Linked DNA regions of Homo sapiens. The protein of the gene in region 3 interacts with the protein of the main gene of each other region in a pairwise test. Each region holds a gene or a part of one and is shown on either strand. Other genes may lie near its edges.

The links.
Region 1: the proteins of ZNF638 (region 3) and PLSCR1 interact in a two-hybrid assay, tested with the Homo sapiens proteins (one large-scale study listed by BioGRID and IntAct).
Region 2: the proteins of ZNF638 (region 3) and WWP1 interact in a two-hybrid assay, tested with the Homo sapiens proteins (one large-scale study listed by BioGRID and IntAct).

What each region holds. Positions count from the first base shown.
Region 1 is NC_000003.12:146,527,507-146,531,162, forward strand, and holds part of PLSCR1 (phospholipid scramblase 1), read right to left. Parts: intron 1,326-3,656; coding exon 1,108-1,325; intron 1-1,107. UniProt on the Homo sapiens protein: Catalyzes calcium-induced ATP-independent rapid bidirectional and non-specific movement of phospholipids (lipid scrambling or lipid flip-flop) between the inner and outer leaflet of the plasma membrane resulting in collapse of the phospholipid asymmetry which leads to phosphatidylserine externalization on the cell surface.
Region 2 is NC_000008.11:86,349,017-86,352,672, forward strand, and holds part of WWP1 (NEDD4-like E3 ubiquitin-protein ligase WWP1), read left to right. Parts: intron 1-3,656. UniProt on the Homo sapiens protein: E3 ubiquitin-protein ligase which accepts ubiquitin from an E2 ubiquitin-conjugating enzyme in the form of a thioester and then directly transfers the ubiquitin to targeted substrates.
Region 3 is NC_000002.12:71,422,234-71,425,889, reverse strand, and holds part of ZNF638 (zinc finger protein 638), read right to left. Parts: intron 3,077-3,656; coding exon 1,852-3,076; intron 1,241-1,851; coding exon 1,175-1,240; intron 1-1,174.

The DNA.
Region 1 (3,656 bases), on a different chromosome or scaffold from region 3:
TTCTAGAATAGGCTGAAGAAATATTGGTAACTTTTTTAGCCATCAAAGAGATTTTTTTTTACAAGTTTCAGATTTGTATTAAGCATACTTAATATCAACCTTTGTCATATGTGATAACATCCTTTATGTATTTTATGAGACTCTGATTTTTAAAATATCTATTTCTATGTATTTCTTGCATAATATAATAATGACCAAAAATTCCTATGATTATGCCACTTAAGCACATTGTGGGAAATTAAGTTACTAAAGAGAGTGCAAGAAAGAAATGATTTATGAAATGAAAACTGGTTGAATATCACAAGAATATTTGTATGTGTATAGACTGGACACACAGAGTTTCTTGTTTCTATTTGACCTACCTGATTTCTAACACCAATTAAATGTTAAACCTCTTATTGCTGAGATTAATTATAATTTAGTGCAACAAAATCCAGGACTTTTTACTCCTTTATTAATGGCATTTATAAAATTAGGTCTTCCAAAGAACAAAAGCAGCATCATAAAAATGCAGTTTTATTAGTTACAATAAAAAGGTGAGTCATATTATACATAAAATATTAACCCCTTGTTTGGGGCCACTTATTGAAACTCAACAATAAACTTTATTTAAATTTTCTTCCAAATTATAAGGCAATTATTCAGTATTGAGACTAAAGAGCACTTCGCTCAGTACCAAAGTTTCGGGATTAAAAAAACAGTCTTGACTCTTTAGGTTCTCACCCCAGAGTGAGCTATATAACCTCTCTGGACCTCAGTTTCTTCTTTTGAAAAATGTAGCACCTATACATCACAGACTTTCAATAAGGATTAAATGAGTTAATACATGTATCAGGCATACAACAAAGGCAGGAAACAGTGCTAATTAAATGTTTGCTATTGGCCATTATCATAGATTGTATTTAAGATAACAGAAAATACAATTTTCTAAGGCATTTGTATTTTGCTTTAAAATTGAACCAGACCTAGAAGAATTAGAGTAATCTGTTAGCAGAAAATACAGTTTTGCTATTTCAGACTTTGGTGAATTATTCATTTGCTAATCTGGTTAAGCAAGCTGGAAGCACAGTTCTGTTTTTTATGAGTATTTTGTGTCTTTGAAATTACCTGACTTAAATATTCTAATCCAGGTGGACAGTTTAATGGAGGCTGTGGCGCTGGCATCCATGGTACCCCTGCAGCTCCAACTGGCTGATTATATACTGGCTGATTATACACTGGCTGATTTGGGACAGGAAAGCCAGCTGGGCCAGGACCTGAATGGCCGGCTGGTGGGGGTGGGTAGCTGACCTGGGGCCCAGGGTAGCCACTATATCCTGGAGGTCCTGAAATACAAACAAGTGAAATGATTTGTAACTGCACCAAAAATGGAATTGTCAACCTTTTTAGGGTTATGCCATCTATCTATAAGTTGACATTTCAGCGTAGACATCTGTATCTGTGATGTTTAATACGCTTTTCTCTTTCTGAGATTTTTCAATGAAATATCTGTGGTTGCACATCCACTTCTATTTGGATGATAGTATGCGGTGAATAGCCTTACCCTTACCATTCAAAACTCAGAAGGAAAATATGCTTTAATATCTGAGAAAATGAAAATAAATAACCATGATCTAGAGTCACCTACATAAAGATTCTGGCAAGCCTTCAAGGGAAACAAACACGTCATTGGTAGAAGGCCCAAAATAATGGCTTTGAGTCAGCATTTCTAGGGCCAAAGTATCTTGTGAAAAATGATAATTCTGAAATTCTAGCAAATGCCTTATAATATATGTATAGAACTGGGGGTAGTTTTGCCCCCTCTCTGCCAGGGATATTTGACAAGATCTGCAGACTTTTTTTGGTCACAACTGGAGGGGAAGATAATACTGCATCTGGTGGGTAGAGGCCAGGGCTGCTGCTACACATCTTAAAAGAGCCAGAACAGCTCCCTAAAAATGAAGAATTGTCCAGCCCAAAATATTATAGTGCCACTGTTGAAGGTGAAAGCACGTCATTTCTTTCTTTCCATTTTTTTTTTTTTTGAGACAGAGTCTTGCTCTGTCGCCCAGGCTGGAGTGCGGTGGCATCATCTCTGCTCACTGCAAGCTCCACCTCCTGGGTTCACACCATTCTCCTGCCTCAGCCTCCTAAGTAGCTGGAACTACAGGCGCCCACCACCACGCCCAGCTAATTTTTTGTATTTTTTAGTAGAGACGGGGTTTCAGTGTGTTAGCCAGGATGGTCTCGATCTCCTGACCTCGTGATCTGCCCACCTCAGCTTCCCAAAGTGCTGGGATTACAGGCGTGAGCCACCGCGCCCATTCGTTTAGTACACGTCATTTCTTTTAGTACATTCCAGATGCCTGCTTGGGTTAATCCTTTGCCTTATGTTTTAATCCATAATGTATTGCTTTCCTAAGTCCTTCTTCATTAAAATAAAATTCTATTATAATATTTAGGTTAGAAATTTAAATTTCACAATTTAACATCCTTTGGTCTCTGGAAAATATAATTTGAGAAACAAGGATGGCAAAAAATTGTAAGAGGCAGAAATTTAATAACAGTAAATGTACTTCATATTCTCTGCGAATGTGTGATTACAATGAAGATTTATATACCTGTTTGTATGGTCCACAGTGTAGCAATTCCATAGCAGTGGAATACAATTTCAAAGGACTGTGTTTCTCAATATTTTAACATTAAAGCCTATGCAAAATGTAATACTTAGAATAGGAAATTTACAAATTCTTTTAAATGGATCATTTATGATAAAATTCATTTGCCCTTCAAAAATAAGGCTTAGAAAAACAGAATAAACCTCACAATAATGCATCATAAATATAGCTTTTATAATTTATTCCTTTATGATGAATGAATATTTACAAATGATCATAATGTGACTGGCTGTGTTGTAGAATATGAGGATACAATTCTCAAGGAGGCAGCCTGCTGTCAGAGAGCTTACAGTCAACTTCTGGGAGAAAGAAAACACATTTAAAACAAAAAAAATTCATATGGATGTGATGGAGAGAATGTATGCGAGCGAGGGCAGGGTATGAGGCAGTTACTTTGGGTAAATATAATTTATATCAAGGTCTAAAAGATGAGAAGAGAAAAGCTTTATATGAAGATTAGTGATAAATGCTTCAGGAGGAAAGAAAGGCAAATAGAATACCTCTGACTTTGTAATGAATTTGACAGGCGTAAAAGAGAGAGGAATGTCATAAGAAAGAAGACGACTAGGAAAGGCTGTTAGCAAAGCAACAGGAAGCTGTTCATCAAAGGAGGCCTTAGTAAGGAGTCTGGATTTGGTTCCAATTATGATTGGCAAGTACTGGAGGAATTTAAGCAGAAGAATGAGTTCCATGGTCTTATCTATATCTTACAAAATTTTCAGGAGTGGAAAAGCATTAGAATTTACAATGGAAAACACAGATGCAATCCCTGCCCATCATTGTTTAATGAGAGAGACAACTTTATATCCCCACTTATTCTAGGGAGCTATAATACCAGTGTAATTAATTGATTCATTAGAATTGGAGATAAATGCTTTCAAGTAAGAGACCACGGTTTTATGACTAGAGATGCCAAAGGTCGCTATTGAGATGGGAAGAGAAAAAGGGAAGGAGCAGGAACAGCTGCCTTGAGGGGTCACCTTTATGCTGAGATCTGAA
Region 2 (3,656 bases), on a different chromosome or scaffold from region 3:
GAAGCAACCAGATCTTTTTTTTTGAGAGGGAGTCTCACTCTGTCACCCAGGCTGGAGTGCAGTGGCTCAGTCTTGGCTCACTGCAACCTCCACCTCCCAGGTTCAAGCAATTCTCCTGCCTCAGCTTCCCGAGTAGCTGGGATTACAGGCGTGCACCACCATGCCCAGCTAATTTTTGTATTAGTAGAGATGGGGTTTCACCATGTTGGACAGGCTAGTCTGGAACTCCTGAGCTCAGGTGATCTGTCCGCCTCGGCCTCCCAGAGTGCTGGGATTACAGGCGTGAGCCACCGTGCCTGGTCTGCAACCAGATCTTCTTAAGGTTTAGACTTGTAAGGGATACAGTATCATTTCTGCCTTATTATACTGGTTAAAGCAAGTCACAAATCTAGCCCAGGTTCAAGGGTACAAATGTGTGAATCCATTTGGGGCCACCCATGTAACAGATTACCATAAATTTTATTTAAGTATAACATCAGCTTTACTATACCAAAACAGGACTTACGGAAAACTGTTTTGGAAGCTGAAGCTTAGGCAGCTTACTACTTTCCGCAAATCTGGATTTTGAGTCTGAGCATGCCACAGGGAAAGCTGAGTCTAAAAAGTGCAAATGACAGCACATCTGGCTTACTACGCAAATGGGAATACCTAGCACTCTCCTTGGTTAGAAAAGAGGAGAACATTTGTGGCCTCTGAGGTTTTTCCTAGTGTGCCACCATAATAGGGTAGGATTGACTTGCCTTCTGCTTGAGGGCAGTGGGATCTAACAAAGTACAGGACCCAAGAGTCCATGCTGCTTGGAAGTAGTGATTTACCCGATCTCGTGAATTGGAACAGACAGCATCCCATGCAGAAAATGGGCCACAGATGGGCAGAGATCGATTCCCTCTGCCCTTGTGATTGGATTTGAGACCTAGGGGAGAAGGGTTTCTTGACTATCACTCTGGCCTTGACCAGAGTGAGCAACCTGTCCCCCACGCGCTCCAAGCCCCAATGGCATTTTCTGTTTGCAGTGTCTTGAAAAAGCTTGGGATAAGCTACTCTTCCTTGGAGAGGTGTCATTATAGTGGAGAGAATTCTCTTTCCTTCTAGAGACTGGAATGGTAATCCTCTCTTATGGAAATACAATGAATAAGGTGCTGCTTCTCCTTTCCAAGAACAGGTAGATTCATTGATTGCTATCTGGGTTTTTCTCGCATTATCACTTAACCTTATCCACTATCGCTTTATTTTAGTCTTAGCAGTATTTTTTGTTTGTTTGTTTTTAGTTCAAGTTGGCTGCTAAGTAATGCCATGGTTAAAGGTGAAATGAAGAAAATGAGTGTTTAGTTTTTATTACATTATAGCTTCTGAGTGGAGTAGTGAATGCATTTCATTTTAAGAATTTAGGTTATTAGTGCATAGCTGCGAAGCATTTTTGAAGCATTTCATGTACACTAAAAAACGGGCCCCTGCATCCTAATGCAAATCTCTTTGCAAATTTCTGAAAATAGTACATTGGCTGTTGCGGGGAGGAGTTTGGTAATTGGATGTACTGAGAAACATGATTTATAGAAATAGGAAAGGCCAGGGCACAAAGAAGGGCACGGATAGAGTTACATGAAGGTGCTTCTTGATGGCTGTCCTCCCTACCCTAAATTATTTGGGTAGTTAAAAAATATCCTAGCATTAACAGAATGTAGGTATGATAGCCTTTTAGGAAACAAGGAAAACAAGTTCTTTTGATAGCTGTTCAGTATACTCATAAATCTGATTGACTGGGCTGGGTGGAAGCTGACTGTTGAGTCCTGACTTGAAATTAGGATACTGTGGTTACACATTAGCCCCAACTTGCCAAGATGTCCTACTTTTTGTCTGTGTTTAGTTAGACTGGGGAGGAGAATTAGTTAAATGAACCTGTTTTGTATAAAGTAGGATATTCTTTACCTTAGAAGTAAACAAACTAGATTGTTCTTCTCTTTTTAAGTTTTTAACGGTAGAGGCACTTTTGGCATACAGGTTAAGAGTCACAGTTTAAAGTCAGGCAGACCTGACTTCTGGTAGTATTGCTTAATGGCAGGATTGCCTCAGTTTCTTCTTTTGTAAAATGTAAAGAATACCATCCTTAATGGATTTTTGTAAGGATTAATTGAAATAATGTTTATAAAGCAGAAAGCATGGTGGCTAGAACGTAAGCCCTTAAATCATGTTTATTGCTCGTAATTCAGTATTATGAAGTTGAAAATTCAAACAAGTATTCACTTTGCTGTGAGCTACTCATTTCTCAAAGACAGTTCTAGCTTCGTTTTGGCATGGGCAGAGCTCCTTATCAAATTTCCACCCCCAGCTTTTTTTTGAGACAGGGTCTCCGACAGCTCTGTCTCCCAGGCTAGAGAGCAATAGTGTGATCATGGTTCATAGCAGGCTTGACCTCGGGGGCTCAAGCAATCCTCCCACCTCAGCCCCACAAGTAGCTGGGACTACAGTTACGCACTAACATGCTCAGCTAGTTTTTTTTTTTTTTTAGTAGAGATGTTGCCCAGGCTGGTCTTGAATTCCTGGGCTCAAGTGATCCCCCCTACCTCGACCTCCCATAGTGCTGGGATTTACAGGCATGAGCCACCAGGCCTGGCCAAATAAACAAAAAAAAAGTTGCTAAAAGGGTAAGCACGAAATCTGGGATACTGACTTAACATGGCTGGCAATATATCAGCTAGTGATGGTTTTGCTGTGCAGCCTGGGAACAAGAAATCATTAACACCATCATTAGATGAAATATTGTATTGACCAGTGTTTGTCAAAGCGCAATCCTTATATAACAGTCGTCTGGGATGCTTATTAAACATGTTGATTCTTGAGTATCCTTTGAGATCTCTGATATGGTCCTTGAGAGTGGAGCTTAGGGATCTTCATTTTTTGCAAATATCTCAAGAGATTTTATGCACATTAGTTTGAGAACTGTTGGTAGAAACTGAATTGGTTATTTGGGGTCCTAGTGTGCTCTGTCAGAGTTCATTTTTCTAGCTAGCTAGCTAAAATATTCCTTTTTTTTTTTTTTTTTTGAGAAAAGGTCTTGTTCTGTCACCCAAGGCTAGAGTGCAGTGGCAAGATCATGGCTCACTGCAACCTTAACCAACCTCCTGGGCTCAAACGATCCTCCCACCTTAGCCTCCCTAGTAGTTGGGAGTACAGGTGTGTGCCGCGACACCTAGCTAATTTTTTATTTTTATTTATTTATTTATTTATTTTAAGACAGAGTCTTACTGTCACCCAGGTTGGAGTGCAGTGGCGCTATCTCGGCTCACTGCAACCTCTCCCTCCCAGTTTCAAATGATTCTTGTGCCTCATCCTACCGAGTAGCTGGGATTACAGGTGCATGCCACCAGGCCCAGCCAATTTTTGTATTTTTAGTAGAGACGGGATTTTACCATGTTGGCCAGGCTGGTCTCGAACTCCTGGCCTCAAGTGATTCACCCGTCTTGGCCTCCCAAAGTTCTGGGATGGATTATAGCCATGAGCCACCGTGCCCTGCCTAATTTTTTATTTTTCTTAGAGATGGGGGTCTTACCTTATTTCCCAGGCTGGTCTTGAACTCCTGGACTCAAGTGATCCTCTCACCTTGCCCTCTCTCCCAATGTGCTGGGATTAAAGTTATGAGCCACCATGCCCAGCCCTCA
Region 3 (3,656 bases):
AGTTCGAGACCAGCCTGGCCAACATGGTGAAACCCCAGCTCTACTAAAAATACAAAAATTAGCTGGGTGTGGTGGCAGATGCCACCCAGCTACTCGGGAGGCTGAGGCAGGAGAAACACTTGAACCTGGGAGGCAGAGGTTGCAGTGAGCCGAGATCACGCCATTGCACTCCAGCCTGGGGGACAGGAGTGAGATTTCGTTGCAAAATAATAATAATAATAAAAGAAATATAATGGTTACATTTTGAGAAAGTTGTATGAAAAAATTATTACTAAGACTCAATGACTAACATAACTGTATTTGAAAACAACAGTATCTGTAATTTTTAAAAATGCCGTCAATAGTAAAGAAGATAAATTCCTACCAGGGCTCCTATACATTTAGTATGTTATTAATGATTAACTGCTATTATATATAATAACGACATTAGAATATGTACCCTGTAATTTCTAGGGAGAATATCTACAAGCGATTGTACTATCAAATTAACAAAGCAAACTGAAGTAGCCACAATCCTTACTTCTGCTTTAGTAGCCATAATCCTTATTTCTGCTTTAGTAGCCATAATCCTTATTTCTGCTTAAAACTAGTAACATTTCTCCTTGCCCCAACAACATAGGCCCAAATCTATCCCCTACCAGGTAAGAAAAGTAAAATGACTGAAAAAAATTCTATGAATGGTAAAAACCTAAAATAACAACCAAATATAAAATATGTTTGACAACAGAACTTGGTACCAGTAAAGTTAATCTTAGAGACCATCCACTTAAGGTTAAATTAGAGCCAAAAGGATAACCTGTTTTAACAAAATGAGGATGACTCAAGTCAAATGTCAGTCTCTTTCACATATATAAATTTTTTTTCTGTGTCTACAACCTATTCCTGTCAATATGAGATTGGAGGTATTGCCCTACTCTACTCTCTTTCTGTCCCCATATAACATTTTGCCCGCTCCCCCCGCCTCAAGAAAACACAAGGTGTTTAGACTAGCTCAAGGTCAAAAAGTAAATTAATGGTAGGATTAGAGATAAGTTAAAAACAAAACATCTCATTCCTATCCCTTGCTCTAAACTCTTAGTCACTAACATTGTTAAGGCAGGCACAAGTTATAAGATAGATGAACTGTGCTATGGAGATGAAAAAGAAGGGTTAGGGTCTGTGATCTATTTTTTACCTCTTTAGATTTGGAACTTCTACCAGTAGTGCTTTTAGGATTCTTAGTGTTTTGCTCAGCCAAAGTCTGAAATAGTAAATAAGAAATACAGAAAAACGGAATTTACAACCATATTATTAATGTTCTGGAAAAAAAAACAAAAAACAAAAAAAAACAGTAAACATTACCCAAATACAGTCAATTATGCAAATTATTTAACATGTATACAAAACTAAGTCAACAGTCACTAAACAGTATAGGCACAGTCTGTACAAGTTGTAGTTAAATTCAGTTTTACTGATCTTTTCGTCCCACAATGTCTAGTTAGGCAATCAGTGACCTGATAAAGGAAGCTTCAATTTAAGAGAGGAAACAGTTTCCCATTCAGAAGCAGAGTGGTAAATCACCTTAGGAGATTCACTGCAGACTTTTTTTTTTTTTTTTTAAACCACAGTTATTTCCAAATTGTATCCAAATAATGCTTTTCAAACATGTCAATAAATTATGAACTTGAGTTTAATACTCTGAATGTCTACTGGCTTAAACAATGGAATCATTTAAGAAAAGGAAATGGGAGCTTCCGGGGTAGAGTGAGGAGATGAAAGTATGAAACAAAATTACATCTCCTACTACATAGCTACAGCAGCGGAGCTAATCACTTCAAAGACACACTGTGCCATTCTTCCTACCCTCCTCACCTTATTGTTGCTGTCATCCCGTTTCATGATGGAAGGTCTAGCCTCTGTTTCCTGAGATTGTTTTGTTATATCTCTGTAATCCAGTTTAGAAAGCTTGCCTTGCAGGGCTGAGATCCTTCCACTGCCTCCTCTGGTAAGACTGCTCTGAGTAGGTTTGAATTTACTGCTGCTTTCTGCCAAGCCTGACCTGGCACTTGTGGGTTTAAGCAGACCAAATTCCTTGGCTGAAAGTTTCTTTTCAGCATTTATTTGATCTCTGGGCACAGATTTTGGAAAACTTTTCTGATTTTCAGTTTTTGAAACTGTAGCTTTTGCCTTAGGAGAAGAGACTATAACAGCCTTGATGCTTGGTTTACTGCTAGATACATCTGATACAGCCAGAATACTAGTTTTACTAGTTTCATCAGGCTTATTAGCCTGACCCACTCCTTTATTTGGGTATGCCTTGAATAAAGTGTTTTCTGCAGGCTTTTCTTTCATTGCTGCCATCTTTTCCACCTTTTCTGCATCCATCCTACCTTCATTCTTTTCAGCCTTCTCTGTTCCTATTTGAAGATCCATTCTGGTTTCCTTAGTATTAAATTCCTTCTCCTCCTTTTCATCCATGTTACCTTTTTTTTCAGAAATATTCTTTTTGTCCACTGTCTTCTCATCCCCAGTGGGAATTCCTGGTACTAACGTCACAATACAAGTTGATGGCAATATTTCCGAAACAGTTTCATTTTTTTCTACTTCAGCTACAGCTTCTACCATAGTCTGTGTAATTCCAGAAATGAAATCTTCTGCTTCAGATGGAGATTCTTCTAGAATTCCTTTGAGGTTCCTTTCTTCTGCAAACACACTGTCAGATGGTAACAATGCTGTTTTAGGGTTAATAATTTCTGCCCCTTTCTTCTCCAAGTCACTGTTAAACATCTGCTGATTTAAAGCACACTCCTCGGCATTTTCAGTGAATTGTTCAATACTGACTGAAGCGGATGCTACAAGAGGAATTTCTTCTTTGACCTCCTCTCCTTGAGTTTCAAGCTCCAAAGTTTCAACAGCAAAGTCAGAATCACATGTTGCTTTTTCAGCTTCTTCCTCACAAGGCTCTTCCTGCTGTACCAAAGTTTCTGTTTGAATGCTGGGAGTACTTTCTTCTTCAAGCTCATTAGGTTTAACAGAGGGACTATCAGTTGCTGTTTGCACCTCACTTTCATCAATTGGACTGTTTTTCAAGCCAGGGCTAAAAGTATTTAAAAACAAACAAAAAGAACACAAACAAAAACACAAACAAAAATCAAACTATGATGAGAATTCAACCATTATAAAGAATCCTGCTGATGCCAATTGTTAAGACTTCCTGATGCATTCGTAATAAGCACTGGGAAATCCAACCAATCAGCATAAAATGGGTAAGATGTATTGCTGGAAATACGTAAATAATATAAATTATGACTGTTGATATGTTCCTTTTGCGCTCATGTGATTACAGCCAATATTTTCCCTCCTCTGTCAAGTTAACCCCTGACATTGAAAGGTCAAATGTGAATCTGAGACACTTCAAATATTATCAGGTCCTATTCCCAACAGTGGTAACTGAAATAATAAAATATGTGTACAGTTCTACAATAAAACTAATGATCCATGCATTATGATTTAAAATTTTATAAGTGAACCTTACCTAAAAAGAACATAAACAGAAACTGGTGGGGGGAAAAGACCATACTCTAAATCATATCACCTTTTTATTTTTTTTTTGGATGTAAAATATTTTTTTAATTACCCAAGAACCATATTTATTAATGATAATACTTAGAACATTA